4 linked regions of the Homo sapiens genome follow. The protein of the gene in region 1 purifies or fractionates together with the protein of each later gene. This does not show direct contact. Each region holds a gene or a part of one and is shown in the gene's direction. Other genes may lie near its edges.

What was found.
Region 2: the proteins of SOCS6 (region 1) and TIMM50 purify together in Homo sapiens (affinity purification with mass spectrometry, with the first as the bait; one large-scale study listed by BioGRID). This does not show direct contact.
Region 3: the proteins of SOCS6 (region 1) and IRS4 purify together in Homo sapiens (affinity purification with mass spectrometry, with the first as the bait; 2 studies listed by BioGRID). This does not show direct contact.
Region 4: the proteins of SOCS6 (region 1) and IARS2 purify together in Homo sapiens (affinity purification with mass spectrometry, with the first as the bait; one large-scale study listed by BioGRID). This does not show direct contact.

Annotation. Positions count from the first base shown.
Region 1 is NC_000018.10:70,323,545-70,327,044, forward strand, and holds part of SOCS6 (suppressor of cytokine signaling 6), read left to right. Parts: exon of another isoform or gene 1-104; intron 105-998; 5' UTR 999-1,124; coding exon 1,125-2,732; 3' UTR 2,733-3,500. UniProt on the Homo sapiens protein: SOCS family proteins form part of a classical negative feedback system that regulates cytokine signal transduction.
Region 2 is NC_000019.10:39,487,338-39,490,837, forward strand, and holds part of TIMM50 (mitochondrial import inner membrane translocase subunit TIM50), read left to right. Parts: intron 1-723; coding exon 724-880; intron 881-1,201; coding exon 1,202-1,308; intron 1,309-2,381; coding exon 2,382-2,483; 3' UTR 2,484-3,500. UniProt on the Homo sapiens protein: Essential component of the TIM23 complex, a complex that mediates the translocation of transit peptide-containing proteins across the mitochondrial inner membrane. Has some phosphatase activity in vitro; however such activity may not be relevant in vivo.
Region 3 is NC_000023.11:108,730,064-108,733,563, reverse strand, and holds part of IRS4 (insulin receptor substrate 4), read left to right. Parts: coding exon 1-985; coding exon of another isoform or gene 986-993; exon of another isoform or gene 994-1,067; intron 1,068-1,666; coding exon of another isoform or gene 1,667-1,671; exon of another isoform or gene 1,672-3,500. UniProt on the Homo sapiens protein: Acts as an interface between multiple growth factor receptors possessing tyrosine kinase activity, such as insulin receptor, IGF1R and FGFR1, and a complex network of intracellular signaling molecules containing SH2 domains.
Region 4 is NC_000001.11:220,142,632-220,146,131, forward strand, and holds part of IARS2 (isoleucine--tRNA ligase, mitochondrial precursor), read left to right. Parts: intron 1-312; coding exon 313-503; intron 504-1,286; exon of another isoform or gene 1,287-1,745; intron 1,746-2,877; coding exon 2,878-3,022; intron 3,023-3,500.

The DNA of each region.
Region 1 (3,500 bases):
ATCAAAACTAGACACATGGGTTTTTATGGGTGTACTTCAGAGATGAAGCTTTTCAACCTGCGCGCATTGAGCTTCTTCCTCCTCTGTGCATTGGGAACTTGAAGGTAAATGATTCTTGTTCTCAAGGAATTCTCGAGTATAGAGGAACATCTCTAGATAGTTTATTACAGATAATGAAATTCTTTTTGTTTATTTTGACACAAGCTTAAGTATTTAAAATATGCATCAGTTGTTGAGTTGACTAGGCTTGTTATTGCAGTTCTATGGAACGCCTTTACTGTCGTGCCAGGACACAGGCTGGGACATGGCAGGCAGCGGAGGAGCAGTCGGAGTCAGTGCTGAAGGAGTGCACAGGTCTAGCTAGAGTCCAGCTGGGAAGGATGTGGACACTGGCCCACACGTTAGAGTTTATACCAAAAAGCAAGGTGCCAAAAGAACAAAAGGTAGATGCAGGCTTGTTCTTTATAAACATCATCGGGCGGGGCATGGTAGCTCAGCCTGTAATCCCAGCACTTTGGGAGGCCGAGGCGGGCGGATCATAAGGTCAAGAGATCGAGACCATCCTGGCTAACACGATGAAACCCCGTCTCTATTAAAATACAAAAAACTTAGCTGAGTGTGGTGGTGGGCGTCTGTAGTCCCAGCTACTTGGGAGGCTGAGGCAGGAGAATGGCGTGAACCCAGGAGGCAGAGCTTGCAGTGAGCCGAGATCACGCCACTGCACTCCAGCCTGGGCGAAAGAGTGAGACTCATCTCAAAATAATAATAATAATAATAATAAAGTAAACATCATCAAATACTTGCCAAATGCTCATTGTGTAGTAGGCAGTGATCTGCTCTGCTGGGTGCAATAGAAAGAAAGCCCGGTCCTAACAGAGCTGACATTAAGAAAAGACTGGGGTGTTCTCGTTCAGAAGTTAAAGGATTAAAACTGACTAAAACAAAACTTTTGTGGAAATATTTTTTAATATGACTCTTTTTATATTTTTATTTTTTAGAAAATGGCTCCAAAGGTTAAATGAAGCAGGAAAAATACATAGATGCAGCCTTGCAGCCTCTCCAGATGTTTGGGGATAATATTCCAGATAGAAATATTGATCCCTTGGATTAGGTAACTAGTCATAATGAAGAAAATTAGTCTTAAAACCTTACGGAAATCTTTTAACTTGAATAAAAGTAAAGAAGAAACTGATTTCATGGTAGTACAACAACCATCGCTAGCCAGTGACTTTGGAAAAGATGATTCCTTATTTGGTAGCTGCTATGGTAAAGATATGGCCAGCTGCGATATCAACGGTGAAGATGAAAAAGGCGGAAAAAACAGATCAAAAAGCGAGAGCCTGATGGGTACGCTAAAAAGGCGGCTTTCTGCAAAACAGAAGTCAAAAGGCAAGGCGGGCACACCCTCTGGGAGCTCTGCCGACGAGGACACCTTCTCCTCCTCCTCAGCACCCATAGTCTTTAAAGACGTGAGAGCTCAGAGGCCGATAAGGTCCACGTCGCTCCGCAGCCATCACTACAGTCCCGCGCCGTGGCCTCTGCGGCCCACAAACTCCGAGGAGACCTGCATCAAGATGGAGGTGAGAGTCAAGGCCTTGGTTCACTCTTCCAGCCCGAGTCCAGCCCTGAATGGCGTCCGGAAGGATTTCCACGACCTCCAGTCTGAGACCACGTGCCAGGAGCAAGCCAATTCACTGAAGAGCTCGGCTTCTCATAATGGAGACCTGCATCTTCACCTGGATGAACATGTGCCTGTCGTTATTGGACTTATGCCTCAGGACTACATTCAGTATACTGTGCCTTTAGATGAGGGGATGTATCCTTTGGAAGGATCACGGAGCTATTGTCTGGACAGCTCTTCTCCCATGGAAGTCTCTGCGGTTCCTCCTCAAGTGGGAGGGCGCGCTTTCCCCGAGGATGAGAGTCAGGTAGACCAGGACCTAGTTGTCGCCCCAGAGATCTTCGTGGATCAGTCCGTGAATGGCTTGTTGATTGGCACCACGGGAGTCATGTTGCAGAGCCCGAGAGCGGGTCACGATGATGTCCCTCCACTCTCACCATTGCTACCTCCAATGCAGAATAATCAAATCCAAAGGAACTTCAGTGGACTCACTGGCACAGAAGCCCACGTGGCTGAAAGTATGCGCTGTCATTTGAATTTTGATCCGAACTCTGCTCCTGGGGTTGCAAGAGTTTATGACTCAGTGCAAAGTAGTGGTCCCATGGTTGTGACAAGCCTTACAGAGGAGCTGAAAAAACTTGCAAAGCAAGGATGGTACTGGGGACCAATCACACGTTGGGAGGCAGAAGGGAAGCTAGCAAACGTGCCAGATGGTTCTTTTCTTGTTCGGGACAGTTCTGACGACCGTTACCTTTTAAGCTTGAGCTTTCGCTCCCATGGTAAAACACTTCACACTAGAATTGAGCACTCAAATGGTAGGTTTAGCTTTTATGAACAGCCAGATGTGGAAGGACATACGTCCATAGTTGATCTAATTGAGCATTCAATCAGGGACTCTGAAAATGGAGCTTTTTGTTATTCAAGGTCTCGGCTGCCTGGATCTGCAACTTACCCCGTCAGACTGACCAACCCAGTGTCCCGGTTCATGCAGGTGCGCTCGTTGCAGTACCTGTGTCGTTTTGTTATACGTCAGTATACCAGAATAGACTTAATTCAGAAACTGCCTTTGCCAAACAAAATGAAGGATTATTTACAGGAGAAGCACTACTGAAAGATTGAGAACCCTGCATCTTGCACTTTGGGAATAAGAACAAGAGATTGAAATACAGTTTACAAACTTTCATTGCCATCAAAATCTTTTGCTGCCATAACTATTTCAGTTTTATGTGTAAAAGAGTCATCAGTTTGTTTAGGGGTGGGGAAGTGTCAGCAAGGTGTCTTGGGTTTATTTTGGTTCTTTAAAAAAGGGAAGTCTTGAGGTTTTAGAGGTGTGAATTATGTTTCATCAATGTGCAGAATAATCACAATGTGAATTATCAAATTCTCCTCAATGCCCCCCCCGCCCAGTCCTTTGCTGCTATCCACTGTGATTTTTATGCATTAAAAGCACATTTCATGTGTATTCAACCCTAAGTAAAGTTGAATGAAACTTAACAGAATGGAAATTGCTATGTCTTTTTAAATGGTCCATTTTCAAAAGACAGTGTTGAATAAACATACCTGTGTGATAAAACACAGAATTTACATATACACTGAAGATGAGTTTTTAATCTCTTACTTTAAAAAGATTTATTTAGAATCGTGAATTGACATAATCTTGGGTAATGGAACGGAGATCTGCAACATATCTTTTAACAACACTTTTTTCTAAATTATTTCTAAGGTTGTGCTAATTCTTTTGGTTGTGAAAAGTTGAATTTTTCTGTTGCCTTCGTTTTCATCTTCTAGTTTGTCTATTTTAATAAATGGCCTTACATTAAAAAATTGTAAAGAAATGTATACCACCAATTTAGAAATTGTTGCCTTTTCTGTAATTAAA
Region 2 (3,500 bases), on another chromosome or scaffold:
ACATGGCTCACTGCAGTCTCAACCTTCTGGGCTCAAGCGATCTTCCCACCTCAGCCTCCTGAGTAGCTGGGCCTATAGGCACACACCACCATGCCTGGCTAATTTTTATTTTTATTTTTATTTATTTATTTTTTTTGTGAGACGGAGTCTCGCTCTGTTGCCTAGGCTGGAGTGCAGTGGCGCGATCTTGGTTCACTGCAACCTCCCCCTCCCAGGTTCAAGCGATTCTCTTTCCTCAGCCTCCCGAGTAGCTGGGACTACAAGCACACACCACCACACCCAGCTAATTTTTTGTATTTTTAGTAGAGACAGAGTTTCGCCATGTTGCCCAGGCTGGTTTTGAACTCCTGAGCTCAGGCAATCTGCCCACCTTGGCCTCCCAAAATTCTGGGAGTACGGTCGTGAGCCACCGCACCCGGCCATTTTTTGTATTTAGTAGATACGGGGTTTCACCATTTTAGCCAGGCTGGTCTTGAACTCCTGACCTCAGGTGATCCGCCCGCCTCGGCCTCCCAAAGTGCTGGGATTACAGGCGTGAGCCACCATGCCTGGCCCTCTGTGGGGGTCGATGCCATCATCCAAAGCCGGTCTTTGAGAGGCCCTGCCATTGTGATCCCAGTATGTGTGATGCTGTGTATGTATGTATGTTTTGTGTGTTTTGGGTCTTCTTGATGGGGGGAGAGTTGGGCACAGATGTTGACCTGATCTGTCACTCACTTCCAGGATATTTCATGTCTGAATCGGGACCCAGCTCGAGTAGTAGTTGTGGACTGCAAGAAGGAAGCCTTCCGCCTGCAGCCCTATAACGGCGTTGCCCTGCGGCCCTGGGACGGCAACTCTGATGACCGGGTCTTGTTGGATCTGTCTGCCTTCCTCAAGAGTAAGGCTGACCCCTGATCCCTTGGCCTCTGACCCCAGAGCCCCTGACTCTGAAGAGGAAGGATAAATGCATGATTCATGGCTGGGCGACTGAGGTGCAAGAGGTGCCTGAGCACCTTGGAGTCTTTAGGAGCTTCTTAGGATGTTCATGGAATGTTTGGGGGATACTTGGGGATGTTCAGGGGAGCCCTTTCAGAGCGTTCAGAAGCATTCCAGGTAGCACTGACTGCCCCCGTGCCCCAGTGCGGGACGTTCCCCTCATGGGCCCTGCCTCCCTCTGGCCTTTAGAAGCCTGGCTGACCACCCCCTGTTGTGCCCACAGCCATTGCACTGAATGGTGTGGAGGACGTGCGAACCGTGCTGGAGCACTATGCCCTGGAGGATGACCCGCTGGCGGCTTTCAAACAGCGGCAAAGCCGGCTAGAGCAGGTTGGTGCTCAGATGCCCAGAGTGGAGGATCGGCTCTGAGGCTCCTGAAGGAGGAGCCTGGGGCAGTCCATCTCCACACTCTTGGTTTGGCTGTGTGACCCTGAGCAGATACCTCCTCTCTGCCTCAGTCTCTGTAACCAGGGGGATATAACACAGCCTGTCCTGTAGGGCTGCCAGAATGAGGGGATGCATTGATTCTGCAGCCTGCTCTGAGAACAGGAAACAGGAGAGGATTTGAGATTAGGCTGGGAGAGGGGTTGCCCTTGATGGTCTTGAGTAGGTCTGGGGGCACCTTGTGGAGGTGGATTGTGGGTTTTAGATCAGGCCTGGAAAGAGGCTCCCTGGGCACGTGGCCCAAGGCTGTGGGGAGAGATGTGATAGTCTTGGTGGGACCCTGGTAATTTGGAAGTGGGACTGAGAGTATGGATTGCGTCTGGGTAAGATTCCCAGGGGTCTAGGCTGAGGTTCACCAGATTCTAGGTTAGGTTCCTAGAGTTGGGAGCCCCTGAGTGCCCAGAGAAGTCCCTAGAGATTTGGGCCTGGGGACCCCCCAGGGAACCCCCCACCCCTGCATCCAGAGAGGGGTCATGGGGCTCAGAGGGCCCAGGGGCAGGATGATGCAGTCTGGTGAGGAGGGCCATGGGGTTTGGACCTGGGATCTCACCAGCATTCACCTTGGGGTAACAGGGTCTGCGATAGGATCTCAGGCTCAGGGGAGGGGTCCCTGGGATCTGGGGAAGGAGATTATGACAGTCTGGGGCCTGAGAACCTACTGCAGTTCAGGCCTGAATACCTCGAGTGCCTAGTATTGGAGTCTGTCGTCCCCCAAACATTGAAGCCTAGGCTCCTGCGGCTCAGAGCTGGCTCTTCCTAGTGTCTGGGGTGGGGGGACTGGGGTCTAGGGTCCCTTGTGTCTGGGCTGGGGGCCCCAGGGTTTGGGGAAAGGGGTCTGGACTTGGCAGAAGTCAGAAGGAAAGGTGGTCCCTGGGCTGAGGCCTGGGGACCTGGGCATCTGGGAGGAGGCTCTGTCCACCTTGCGCTGACCCTCTCCTCCAACTGTCCCCCTACCCCAGGAGGAGCAGCAGCGCCTGGCCGAGCTCTCCAAGTCCAACAAGCAGAACCTCTTCCTTGGCTCCCTCACCAGCCGCTTGTGGCCTCGCTCCAAACAGCCCTGAACTCTGGGCCTCCTCAAACTCAGTGCCTGGGTCCAGGGCCCCAGTGCTTCCAGACCAAGACTTGGGCCACCACTTGTCCAATAAAGTACATCCCAGACGCCACACCTGCTGTGTCCCGAGAGTCTCCAGATGGGGGCATCAGGGTGAGGTCCGGGACTCTTGGGTCATCGTCCCACAGTGGCTGATCGGCTGCCAAGCACAGTGGGGGTGCTTTGTTGGATCAGAGCAGATTTTTCACCCTGGTCTCGGAATCTAAAAACCCTCGCTGTGTCTTCCTGTGTGTTGCGTGATCTGTGAAAAATACATCTCCCTCTGACCACAGACTCCTCATCTGTGGAGAAGGGAAGAGAGGATGGCACTTGGCTTTAAAGACAGGTAGCTGCCAGGCTACTGTGGAGAGAATGTGTTATGGGCCTAGTGGGCCTCTGGTGGACCAGAGATTACCCCTCTCAACAGGCCAGCTGCTGGTTGGCTCCAGCCAGTGTGGCCCTGGGGTAAAGGGGGCCTGGAGTTGCTTGACACGCCAGTTGTTCAAAAGAAGCAAGAACTTGGGAATATTTTTTTTTTTTTTTTGAGACAGGGTCTCACTGTTGCCCAGGCTGGAGTGCATTGATGTGATCTTAGCTTACAACAGCCTTGACCTCCCGGCTCAAGTGATCTCCAAGTGACCCTCCTGCCTCAGCCTCCTGAGTACCCTCCTGGGGACTACAGGTGCGTGCTACCATACCCAGCTAATTTAAACAAATTTTTTTTTTGTAGAGATGGGGTCTTGGTGCCCAAGCTGGTCTCAAACTCCTAGTCTTAAGCAATCTTCCTGCTTTGGCCTCCCAAAGCGCTAGGATTCCAGGTGTGAGCTACTGTGCCCAGCTAAAATAGGGATTTTTATATTAAATCTCCCTATTTTAAAATGTTGGCTCCTAGCGGGGCGCAGTGGCTCACGCCTGTAATCCCAGCACTTTGGGAGGCTGAGGTGGGTGGATCACCTGAGGTCAGGAGTTCAAGACCAGCCTCAACATG
Region 3 (3,500 bases), on another chromosome or scaffold:
AAAAGAGAGAGCAATACACCAGCTCCCTCTACTCAAGGACTACCAGATTCGTGGGGCATAATTGCTGAACCCAGACAGTCAGCCTTTTCTAATTATGTGAATGTTGAGTTTGGAGTGCCATTTCCAAATCCAGCAAACGACCTCTCAGATCTTTTAAGAGCTATACCACGTGCCAACCCCTTATCTCTGGACAGTGCTAGGTGGCCACTTCCTCCCCTTCCCCTCAGTGCTACAGGTAGCAATGCTATTGAGGAAGAGGGTGACTACATTGAAGTAATTTTCAACTCAGCAATGACACCAGCCATGGCTCTTGCTGACAGTGCCATTCGCTATGATGCTGAAACAGGTCGAATCTATGTGGTCGACCCATTTTCTGAGTGCTGTATGGATATTTCTCTCTCCCCCAGCCGATGTTCTGAACCACCACCTGTAGCTAGGCTGCTGCAGGAAGAAGAGCAGGAGAGAAGACGCCCACAAAGCCGTTCTCAAAGTTTCTTTGCAGCAGCCAGAGCCGCTGTCTCTGCTTTTCCAACAGACAGCCTCGAGAGAGACCTTTCCCCATCCTCAGCCCCGGCTGTCGCTTCGGCTGCAGAGCCGACTTTAGCCCTCAGCCAAGTTGTAGCTGCGGCCTCCGCGCTCGCCGCAGCCCCGGGCATCGGCGCAGCAGCCGCAGCTGCTGGATTTGACTCCGCCTCTGCCCGCTGGTTTCAACCTGTTGCTAATGCTGCTGATGCCGAAGCAGTAAGGGGAGCCCAAGACGTTGCCGGTGGCTCGAACCCTGGAGCCCACAACCCATCTGCAAACCTTGCCAGAGGTGATAACCAGGCTGGCGGGGCTGCCGCTGCAGCTGCCGCTCCGGAACCACCACCTCGCAGTCGCCGGGTGCCAAGACCCCCGGAGAGAGAAGATTCTGACAACGACGACGACACTCACGTGAGAATGGATTTTGCCAGACGTGATAATCAGTTCGACTCTCCCAAAAGAGGTCGGTAATTTTAGAATTAATTTCCCTAAAGTGAATGGTCATTGTCTAATGATTCGATGCGCTACAGTCTACAGTGTTAGGGATACTATTTCATTAACTGGTGCTATTCGACATGGAGTATAGAATTCAGTTTTAATTATTCACAAATGCCTTTTTGATCTTTGCAAAAATTTGTTTTTATCTAATCAATTTCTTTATCTGGACAGAACTGATTATCATTTAAACACTGGTTCTACTTTTTTAGGAGTAGTTAAAACGCAGACATAAAAAGCATAAGGATACTTTTAAACATCCTTCCCCATCATTTAATGATAATGTAAAGCAGGATATCGTAAATTGGGTTCCACCAACTAATTTTCAAATCAACAATTAAAAGCTGCTTTTCTGCAAATGCCCATATTTAAGTGTAGGAATTTAATAAGAGCACAGACTATTAAGCAGTAATAATCAACTATTTATGTTTAGGGAGGATAATTTTCTCCTCTGAAAGTTACTTTTTAAAGAGCAGTCGTTGTTGTGCTAGTTTGCTGTGATTTACCAAGAAAGTTAAATCTCAATTGTTAACGTGAATGTCTGGGGGGAACAAAACATAAATAATCCAAAACAGGAGGTGATTAAAAGAAGACAGTATTTGGCTCTGGAATGTGTTTGTGTGTTGATTTTCTTTTTGTTTTTACACAGGATAAATTCCAGAAACCTTGAGTGTTCCTTTTCTCTGTCACTAGTAATGACAGGCAAGTCACATTTGCTGTGCCTCATTTTCTTCTTTTAACCCCCCACCCTTCTAAAAGAGGGTGTGGTGACAACTTGAGAATGGATATGAATATTATTTCAAAGGTTTAAAAAGCAGTTAAAACATTTAATTCATATATCTTATGGGAAATCAAGGAAAGCAAGATAAGGCTGGAGGAAGACCTGACTCCAGGGGCAGCTTACCCTGGAATGGTGGAAGTTTTTAAAGGGCTACTTTTCCAAAGGAAGAAGTAAGGAAGAGTAGGAGCTGTCAGACTTGGAAACAAGACTTAGAGTAATTCTACTGTGTACAACATTGTGGAATGTTGTCATCAGTGTGTCTTGAAACATTTTCAAGAGATGATTGCAGAGGATGATGTCTCCATAGTCTCAACTACCTTGCCTCTTAAGTAGAATATGCTTCTTTCCCAGTGAAGGGAAGGGATGGACCCCAGCAGTTTTCATTCCAGTAGTCAGTTTAGTGAAGATTTTTGCTTTGCTTGCTTTGTGGAATGCTTTTGTGATTGGATCTCTGCCCACTGTGCTTGATCAGGCAGAACAAGTCGGGCACTGATCACAACAGTCACCTAACAAGCTCCCTATTTAATGCAGGTGTAGCCCCCCCACATCCCCTTTTTCTCCCTGCTATAGAAAACTTGCCATACACAAACTCACATTTGCAGCGTGGACACATTAAAGAGTGATCATTAAAACAACAAAAGGATGCTTTGGCTTGCCAAAGGATTCAATTCAGACCTCTTTTAAACTGTGAGTTCCCTCCCCAACACACACACATACACACACACACAAACACACATGATCACCACTGCTACCATAATCATACGTTTAAAATATATAATTTCATTTCCAAGTCTTTAATCCATAATAAGATTTTCAAGAGTAGATCTACTTTATTCTGTAGAATATACCTGAAAATTGATCTCAATCTATTGTTTGAGTCTAACTATTGAAGACACCATTTATAATTTTGATGTAGATGATACACAGTTGCCTGTGTCCCTGTAGTACTTTCAAAAGGACCAGTTTTCATAGAGGTTTATTTTAAGAAGTTTAAGATTTAAATAGTGAAATCTTACTGTTCCTTGAATAAATTCTGACTTCCCAAGGAATACCTAGACACAATGATCATTATTTTAGCATAAATTCCTGATTTATGACTTTGTAGCTATTTTGGAGATTTAACATTCTGTAAATGCATTGTTTATTGAGGAAATTCCTAGCTTTATTGAGTGACTTTAGCAAGGAAGCTCTATCTCACAGGGAGGCAGGCGCTTAGGTTGAAATAAGAGAATCAACGTGGAAGCACTTTGGAATGTTAAAGCACTTTACAAATGTAAGATATTTTTAGTGTCATTGGATTAATACTGAAGTGAAATTTCGGCAGTTTAAACTGATTCAGTTTCTTGCAAAATAATTGATCTTGAGGGTGATTCCTGCACATAATTTGCTGAAATACATGAAAGGAATGGTGGGGATTGCCGGCGGGGGGGTGCGGGGGTGGGGGTGGTGGTGGTGGTGGTGGTGGTGTTGATGGTGGTGAAACAACCCATTGTAGGAAATGACTTTGGTTAGCATTTTAATGTAAATTGTATGGTAGAATGTTGTCTGTGAAGTGTTAAGAACAAGCTGAATGATTCTGATCCTTTTTTATTGTAAAGCTGTAGAATAATTTTCACTCATTTCTGATCTCTATTTTCCTATCTAACATTAAAACAAAAACAATCACGTTAGGAAACAAAAACATAATGCTTTGACAGAGGAA
Region 4 (3,500 bases), on another chromosome or scaffold:
GGGGGAAGTCACTTATAATGTTACTCCTGATAGCTGTTAATATTGGGATATTTCTATTTATTTTTTTCTAAGCATCCTTTTTTTCTTTGAGATCTTATTATATATTTTCTCTTTTGTTTAAATATAACAAAGATTTTCCAATGCTGATATAAATGTTTTGTAAATAATTAGGATGGATCCATAATATTTCATCACTTGATTACCATAAATAACAATTCTTATTTCCCATTAATGGTAACTATTTAATGGTTAGAGCTTCATATACAGTTTAGGATGTTTGTAAAGCAGTTTACTATTTTTGTTCTTCTGAAGAGCCCAAGAGTGTTTTCCGTACTGGGTGGATTAGTACTAGTTCTATCTGGAAAAAGCCCGGGTTGGAAGAAGCTGTGGAGAGTGCGTGTGCAATGCGAGACTCATTTCTTGGAAGCATCCCTGGCAAAAATGCAGCTGAGTACAAGGTTATCACTGTGATAGAACCTGGACTGCTTTTTGAGATAATAGAGGTATGCAGCAATATGTACCTTTTGAAATGGTGTTAGTATCATAGAGCTTTGCCTGAAATTTGCTTTTAAAATGTGTCTAAATTAATCAAATAACATTGGGTTATGTGTAACTTTACTATGCAATTATTCTATTATGTTCCTTTTCACATACTTTTTCACTTTTAAATATCTTTTAATAAATTAAGCAAAGTCATGCACATTTAAAAAAAAGTGTCTAAATTAAAAAAAAATTAATTTAGAAATTAGGGTTTCCGTCTTCTAATCCTGATATCATCACTGATTCTTTTGTTTCCTATTTCACCATATTCTTTTCCATGTCTTGTAAAACGTGTTCTGTGCATGTAACACATACATATTACTGTGTAGGGATAGGGAAGGAATAGATAAAGTTCTGTTTCAAACAAAAGGCCTCAGGACTATTTAGAAGACAGGGGACATATAAATTGATCGCGATCGTCTTTGAATGTATAAAAAATGGGAGTTTTGTATTAAGGGTCAGGTTTCCTGAGAATTTCATCCATCTGGACCAGATTCAAAACAAACCCAAAAAGAGTTTCCATTTTTATTTTGTGAAATCTGGAGAAAATTCATTTTCTCCAGCAAGTTACCACATATATTTCAAAGCATTTATCCTATTTTTATTTCTAGAAGGGCCATCAGAATTTTATTCTTGGGATTTTTAGGGGTTGATTGGCCAGATTGGCTTATAGCTTAACATAATGATGTGATTTTTCTCCAGTCTAAATGCTTAAGAAGAGAATTGGCAATGAATATAATTTTTTTTCCACGGGGCATTTTATTTGTAAATATATGTATTACATCCCTAGAAAAAGAATCCCAGGATTTTCCCTCCTGTGTGTTTTCATCTTGCTTCTTCATGGTCCATGATGCCAGCTGAGGTTGTCAGTACAATGAAACCAAACTGGCGGGATGGAAGCAGATTATTTTGCCATTTTTCTAGATCTTTGCTTTGCACATCAAATCTGGGGCTGATGTCTCCACACTTGTTTAGCCTGCCTGTGAGGTTCACAACAATTTTCCCAGCTCTGTGACCATCAGTGATTTCAAATTTGCCAATGTAACCATGCTTCATCATCACGGTGAGAAACAGGATGATGACTTTGGAGCACGGCCTAATAAGCACCTGGCTTTTGCCTCTCTTTTTGGCATTGTTGATGCTCTTGAGAGCATCAGCCAGGACATTCATGCGCACCATTGTGGTGGTGCAGAAAGACGGTGGAAGAGCTATTTTTTAAAAGTTTTATTAGTGTCAGTTTTCTAAAAAACATCCATCTTATTTTGTATGGTAAGCTCAATTTAAATTTTTAATGATGTAATTAGCAAGATTAAGATTTGAGCTTGAAATAGCTAGTAGGTATAATAGATGAGATTTTCCCATTTTAAAATTTAAAACTTGGGAAGCTGTTCATTTTACAAGTGAGGAAGTGAGGACTGCTGAAGCTGTGACCTAGACAGGGTAACACAGCCTAGTCCTGGCCTTTTTTCCTACATACTGTGTTTCCTTTGTCTTCAGTCTTTCTAAGTAATGAACTGAAAAGAAGAACAGCTTGTTTGGATCAATTTTATTGGAAAAAATACTTTGGGATTTTCAAAAACATGAATGTATTTTCCTTAGGAATCATACCAAGTAGCTGTAAGATGGAGTCCTGGTTCTATCCATTACTAATTGCATAAACTTGTTAAAACCAAATTAATCTCTTTGAGTCTCTTATTTCTCATGGGCTTTAATTTTTAAAGGAATGTCTATGTTGGTTAGCTTACAAACTCACTTTGAAGATCAAAATTACAGAGAAAAATGTGTTCATCAGACAAATTCAGTCTACTTCATAAGTGTTCTGCGTATTGTTCAGATTGCCACTATCAGTATACATTACTAAAAGCTGGTACCTGTTGAGATAGTATTTTAGCCCCTCACCCAATGATACATGAAAAAAAAAAAAAAAGGCTTTGAGGCTGACAGACCTGGGCTTGACCTGCAGTTCCACCACGTATGGGTTGAGAATCTTGGGCAAGTTAACCTCTCTTTGCTTGTTTCTTCATTTGTAAAGTGAGGATAATAAACACCATATAGGTTTTTTTTGTGTGTATGTATGTGACAATTAGAAGTAAGAGACATCTTAGGATCTAGCAAAGTGAAGTGCCTGGCATTCTCAATAAATACTGTTGATGGAAATATTTAGTTAAAACCTTTTATGCTAATTAGGATTGATACATTTAGTGATGTTTGCTCAGGATGCAATGGTATACCAGAAGGTTCCTCTCTAAACGTGAGATTTTATAGTGTTTCTTTTTATAACCTCAGTTTATGGTACAAATTTAACATAAACTGTAACTTTCACATGCTTCCTTCCAGATGCTGCAGTCTGAAGAGACTTCCAGCACCTCTCAGTTGAATGAATTAATGATGGCTTCTGAGTCAACTTTACTGGCTCAGGAACCACGAGAGATGACTGCAGATGTAATCGAGCTTAAAGGGAAATTCCTCATCAACTTAGAAGGTAAGAAGGAGATGAAAGTAACAAGTAACATCTGGAGAATTGAATAATTATAGGTCATCTCCAACTTTCCAGTGGACTGGGTTTATTCTAAAGGTAGATATATACTTGGAATACATCTTTCTATGGAAATAATAAAAACAATTGCCAAGTTTCTAAGCCCGCTCTTAAAACTATCTTACCTGATGATCTTGGGAACTGAGGGCTAGGGACAGAAGAGGGAGAGAGATTTTCTTTCTGTCCTTTGAATAAATAATGGTCACTGTATATGAAGTTTATGTTAGGCTGACTTGCTCCCATTCCTCTTTTGTGTCCCCCTGCTTTGATACTTAGTACCCCAGTACTGGCCCAGTCCTGCCCACTGTTCCCCAGTATTGATTCTAAAATTTCCTATTATGTATACCCCGGATTAAAATATTTAGCCATTCTTGTGAGGGGTTAAGGAGGAAGTTTTATTGAGCTCATTCTAACAATGGTATCT